Linked DNA regions of Homo sapiens. The protein of the gene in region 1 interacts with the protein of each later gene in a pairwise test. Each region holds a gene or a part of one and is shown on either strand. Other genes may lie near its edges.

Region 1 (3,591 bases):
CTGTCCTGGCTGTTAACTCAGAAAACATACAAGCACTTTTTTTTCTAACCACTGACACAAGCACACAGAGGGCACTAGGGTTGGCAGCTCCCACTCCCAGACAGCTGGACACCTGCTCTGATTGGAACAAAATAGTGAGGTAGTGAGATCCCTGTCCCTGAGGGAGTTCAAGTGAAGGCTGGGTGATGTTTGGTGATGGAGATGCTGTATCTAGACAACCTCTGCATTCCCCGCACTGAGATCCTCCAGGAGACACTCCACTCAGAGCTGAGGGGAGCGGAGCAGACAGGTGGCCTTGCAGTGTAGGATCCGGGGGGTGGGCAGACCTGTGGGGGAGCGGCCCGCCCAGCTCCCTCCCACACTTTCCACTGCTGGCCCCTCATCATTGCCCTTCCCTCCACCCCAGCAGTGAGCGAGTTCTTCAATGCCAGCTGCGTGCCCGTGAACAACCCCAAGAACTACCCCTCCTCGCTGTGTGCACTGTGCGTGGGGGACGAGCAGGGCCGCAACAAGTGTGTGGGCAACAGCCAGGAGCGGTATTACGGCTACCGCGGCGCCTTCAGGTACCCGGGTGGCCTGGCAGTCTGGGGCTGTGTGCAGAGGCTGGGACCCTCCTGCCGACGCCTGCCCTGCCCTCTGTGTGGCAGGTGCCTGGTGGAGAATGCGGGTGACGTTGCCTTCGTCAGGCACACAACCGTCTTTGACAACACAAACGGTAGGTGGGGGCAAGAGCAGGGCCAAAGGTAGGTCGGGGGGACTGTTCCCCATCTTCAGCACCATCCAGACACCATGCTGGGCTGGGGCCAAGCAGCAGCTCAGAGAGGCTGAGTCTAGAAGGCTGTGCCCCCTGGGAAGCTGGGAGCCCCAAGGGTCACAGGGTAAGAACAGACCTCAGACCACACATCCAGGGGTGCTGGATACATGACGGTTTTTACTGGCCTGGAATTCAAGTCCCTAATCCACCGAAACGGTAGAAACTCAATCCCAGTCAATCTGGAAAGACCCCCTTCTGGGAGTATTGATGTAGTGCCAAGGTGTGAGGTGGGAGTGGCATGAGCCTCTCCACAGGGTCATGAGTTCAATCAGTATCTGGTCTGTGTTCCTGAGCAGGTCACTGCCTCATGCAAGGAAATCTCTCTGCAGCCCCCAAGCCACACCGAGGCAGGGCACGCCCAACATACCACACAGGGGGTTTTCTTCCTGGAGTCACCTTCCTGGGCTCCGCCTGGGACAAAGAGCTCAGGAACGCTCTGCTCCGGGACCCCAGTACATACATGGTCCTATCAGAGCACACGCTCCCCTGACTTATATCACTTCCCCTTCTTCTTGTTCTCCGTGAAGGAATCTGTGTCCGTTTTGAAGACTAGAGGCTGTTTTCCTCCAACACCAAAGGCTTGTACTGTCTGCATACCCTGCCTACACCCCAGGCTTTGAAACCCCAAATGCTGGAGGCCCAGTCTTCTCCACTCGCTCCCAACATGTCTCCTCCTATAGACTTAGCCCAGAAAGGCACAACTGTGGCCCGGTGGGGAGGGGACTGGACAATGGGAAGCAAGACGTGCAGGGAAAAAAACGAAAACCTCAGTTAGTGTTTCAAAACTTGGATCTTGCCTCCTATGGGGGTCACCAAGGCGGTAGGACCATTTGCCCCAGCAGAGCTAGGGAGGGCTCCAGGCCCTGAACCCTTCCTGTTGCCACAGCCCAGCTCCCCCACCCAGCCTCCTACCAAGAACACCTGAAACCCTCCCCCAGGGAGGGGCTGTGTGCTCCTGCACGAGCCCAGCGGGCCTGCCTGGTCCCAGATCTGTGCATGGTGTCGTCTGGGATGGGGTCAGGGGAGGCGGGCAGGTGCTGGAGAGGCCTTGGGAGGTTCACTTGCAGTGAGTCACCCGCCTCCCAGGGCCACTCCTTTCCCTTTTATCTTTAGCTCTCCTCAAGGCCCACCTGGATTTCCTGGAAATGGGAGGAGGATGGATACTAAGTGAATGCACAGAGACATGAAAATGTGATTCCTGAGGGCAGCATTTTCTCAGGCAGCCCGAGACCGCCTGCTTTAGAATCAGTGGGATGCTGGTTTAACATGCAGATTCTTGAGCCTGATCTGAGACCTCCTGAATAAGATTCTTTGCAAGCAAGGGCCCTTGAAGCTGCCTTCTGCATCCACAAGTGATGCTATACCCTGTTCCATTTGAGAACTTCAGCCCTTAGGGACAATCACCCACCACCTTCAGGGAGCCACCCCACACTCAGGCTTGAGGATGTAACACATAGATGGGGTTCTCTGCCTGGGAGTGATTAACAGCCTCAGTTTCCTCACCTGTAAAATGGGGACAAAAACACCTACCCTGCGTTACTGTTGTGGGGATCAAGCAACGCGTGTAAAGTACTTGTCACATAGTAGGTACTCCCTACTCCCTGCTAATTAATGGCAGCTCCTGCTAATGGCATGAACACAGCTGGGTTCTTTCACCCCGGTAACACAGCAGAGCACGTGGAGAATGGAGAGGGTTGGGGAGCTGGCCAGATGTTGCCACCTCCCTGTGGTGAAGGCCTTGGGGTCCCAGGATAGCAGCTTCTCTTTACACTTCTCTCCACTCCCGGAACGTCCCCACACACACTGCTTTACCCCCCTCAGGCCACAATTCCGAGCCCTGGGCTGCTGAGCTCAGGTCAGAGGACTATGAACTGCTGTGCCCCAACGGGGCCCGAGCCGAGGTGTCCCAGTTTGCAGCCTGCAACCTGGCACAGATACCACCCCACGCCGTGATGGTCCGGCCCGACACCAACATCTTCACCGTGTATGGACTGCTGGACAAGGCCCAGGTGAGCCAGGGTGGGGCTACCTCATTGAGGGGTGTGCAGCAGAGGTAAGCTGAGCCCCTGGGAGGCCTCAGTCTACCTGGAGCAGACCTCTAGAGAAATTGAGGAAGCCCGGGGGAAATTCTGTGATTTTCACTTACGCAAGGACATCCCTCCAGAAACTGTCCCCTCTGCCTCCTGCATCGTTGATTTTCCCTTCTCAGTCGGACCATTTTCACCAACATGAAACATGCTGTGACTTCTGCCATCCTTAAAGAACAAACTAACCTCTTGGTCTCACATCCATCCTCTTGCAGCTGTAATCCTGCTCCCTTTTTTTCTTTTTTTTTTGAGACGGAGTCTTACTCTGTCGCCCCAGGCTGGAGTGCAGTGGCACTATCTCGGCTCACTGCAAGCTCCGCCTCCCGGGTTCACGCCATTCTCCCACCTCAGCCTCCTGAGTAGCTGGGACTACAGGCACCCGCCACCATGCCTGGCTAATTTTTTCTATTTTTTAGTAGAGAAGGGGTTTCACCGTGTTAGCCAGGATGGTCTCGATCTCCTGACCTCGTGATCCGCCCACCTCGGCCTCCCAAAGTGCTGGGATTACAGGCATGAGCCACTGTGCCCGGCCAATCCTGCTCCCTTTCGAAGCAAAACTCCTCCAAAGAGTGGTCTGCTCTGGAGTTAACAAGTCCTCTCCTCTGGCCTCTCTTAAGGATGGAGACTGAGTTAGCAAGTCCTCTCCTCTGGCCCCTCTTAAGGATGGAGACTACCCCAGACAGGCTCCCA
Region 2 (2,375 bases), on another chromosome or scaffold:
AGCTTTCACTCCGCCCTGTACCTTCTGTTTCCACTTAGGAGCCTTCCCATGTCAGAATGTGCAGATCTGTCTCATTGTTTCCTGTGCAGTGTGCCCCCACTTCACCCAGTAGTTTCTGTGTGTCTGTTATGTACTAGGTACTACAAGGTGCCAGGACGGTGTAGATACAGCCTCTGCTATCGTAAAACTCAATGATTCGGTGGGGGAAGACAAATGTCAGTAATGTACAAAGTAAAATGGCAGCTGTTAGAAGTATGAAAGGGGCAGGGTAGGGGGAGGTAGAATCTTCCCTGACCAGGTTAAGAAAACCAGAGGCCTTCTCTGAGGGCAAGAGGAGGAGAGGAGAAATAGAGTAAGGCAGGCAGAGGAAACAGTCTGAGCTAAGACCCTGTGGCTAGAAGTGGCAGAGGGAGAGGCAGCAGGAAGGCCAGCGGGGAGGCTGGGGCCCAGTGCAGGCCCAGGTTGGAGGAGCGTAGCACATGGAGTTTGGTAGGAGTTTGGGACGCCCTGGTGGATCTTAATTGTGATGGGGTGGGTGTGAAAGGCAGTCCAGGTTGCACTGGTTGCACAGGAGAAGTGATCAGAAGAGGACCCCAGCAGGTGTGAGCCGTGAGCTGGGAGGTGCTTCAGTAGTGCAGGCCATAGCTGAAGGTGTCCTACATCAGCAGGGTGATGGTGAGGTTTGAACCACTGTTTCACTGCATAGTCCCTGCTGATGGACACTTGAGTGTTCAGATTTTTTGCTGGTATATTCAGTGCTGCAGTGGACATTTTCATACAAAATATTTCGGTACACTTTTGTTTATATCTGAAAGGTAAATTCCTAGCAGTAGAATTATTAGAGCAAACGGAATTTAACATTTTGGTGTGTATTGCCAAATTGCCCTCCCAAGTGGTTTAGTCAGCTTACCCTTGCCAACAATAGATCTATCCTTGCCAGCCTTGGGCATCACATTTACCAGTTTAATAGATTGTAAAACCATATCTTAATTGGCTACCCTGAAGCCACCATACTGGAGAGGCTGCGTACAGTGTTTCACGTAGAGAGAGGGATACCCAGGAGGCCCACCTGCTCCAACCCCAGCTGCATGAGTCTTCCCAGCCCAGGCACAGACATGTGGATAAGATTTAAACATTTCCAGCCCCAGCCTTCAAGCAATCCTAGTTGACACTGAGGGGAGCCAACATAAGCTGAGCTGAGAAACAGTCTGCCCAGTCTGCAGATTCATGAGCAAAAGAAATGTTGGGCTGGGTACAGTGGCTCACGCCTGTAATCCCAGTACTTTGGGAGGCCGAGGTGGGTGGATCAGTTGAGGTCAGGAGTTTGAGACCAGCCTGGCCAACATGGTGAAGCCCTGTCTCTACTAAAAATTAGCCGAGTGTGGTGGTGCGGGCCTGTAATCCCAGCTACTCAGGTGGCTGAGGCAGGAGAATGGCTTGAACCCGGGAGGCGGAGGTTGCAGTGAGCCAAGATCAGGCCACTGCACTCCAGCCTGGATGACGGGATGAGACTCTGTCTCAAAAAAACGAAACAAAAATTTTTTAAGAGAAATGTCATTTGTTTTTGTTTTTGAGACAGGGTCTCACTCTGTTGCCCTCACTAGAGTGCAGTAGGATCACGGCTCACTGAAGTCTCTACCTACCGGCTCAATTGATCTTCCCACCACAGCCTCCCAAATAGCTGGGAGAAATGTCCTGTTTTTAATGAATTTGTCTTCCTTTTTGTCTTGTTTGTTTTAATATCTAGTGATCTAATAAATTTGGATGATATCTTTTGACTATCAATTATGAAACCTGTATCAGATATACACATCTTTCCTTCTTCATCCTCAGGCTTTCTGGTTTTGATGGTGATACTGTGGCTTTTGTACTTCTGGTGGTTTCCCTTATACTGTTAAACCTCTTTTTTTTTTTTAAATTAAACCAACTTAGTATGCATTAACCACTGAACAAGGGAAAGGAACTCACAAACTTTTTCCTGTGTCCCTGATTATTGTTTAATAGTGTTTGTATACTGACAAGATACATAATATCCACCTTCTGCACCCACAGTGTCCGCCTTTATGCTTGGACAAGAGCATGCAGGGTAGGACATTTCTGAGCCTTGCTTTTTTCCCTGGAAGTTTTTTGTTTGTTTGTTTGTTTTTTAAGAGACAGGGTCTCTTGCTGTCTCACTCAGGCTAGAGTGCAGTGGTGTGTTCATAGCTCACTGCAGCCTCAAACTCCTGAGTTCAAGCCATCCTCTTGCCTCAGCCTCCCGAGTAGCTAGGACTACAAGCATGCACCACTATGCCTGGCTAGGTTTTTTTTTTTTTGTTTTTTTTTTTTGGAGAAATGGAGGTGTCTCACCATGTTGCCTGGGCTGGTCCTCAAGC

What was found.
Region 2: the proteins of MELTF (region 1) and MESD interact in binary tests that used the Homo sapiens proteins (3 or more experiments, as listed by UniProt).

The regions. Positions count from the first base shown.
Region 1 is NC_000003.12:197,005,781-197,009,371, reverse strand, and holds part of MELTF (melanotransferrin isoform 1 preproprotein), read left to right. Parts: intron 1-406; coding exon 407-563; intron 564-647; coding exon 648-715; intron 716-2,635; coding exon 2,636-2,823; intron 2,824-3,591. UniProt on the Homo sapiens protein: Involved in iron cellular uptake. Seems to be internalized and then recycled back to the cell membrane. Binds a single atom of iron per subunit. Could also bind zinc.
Region 2 is NC_000015.10:80,975,162-80,977,536, reverse strand, and holds the end of MESD (LRP chaperone MESD precursor), read left to right. Parts: 3' UTR 1-1,785; downstream 1,786-2,375. UniProt on the Homo sapiens protein: Chaperone specifically assisting the folding of beta-propeller/EGF modules within the family of low-density lipoprotein receptors (LDLRs).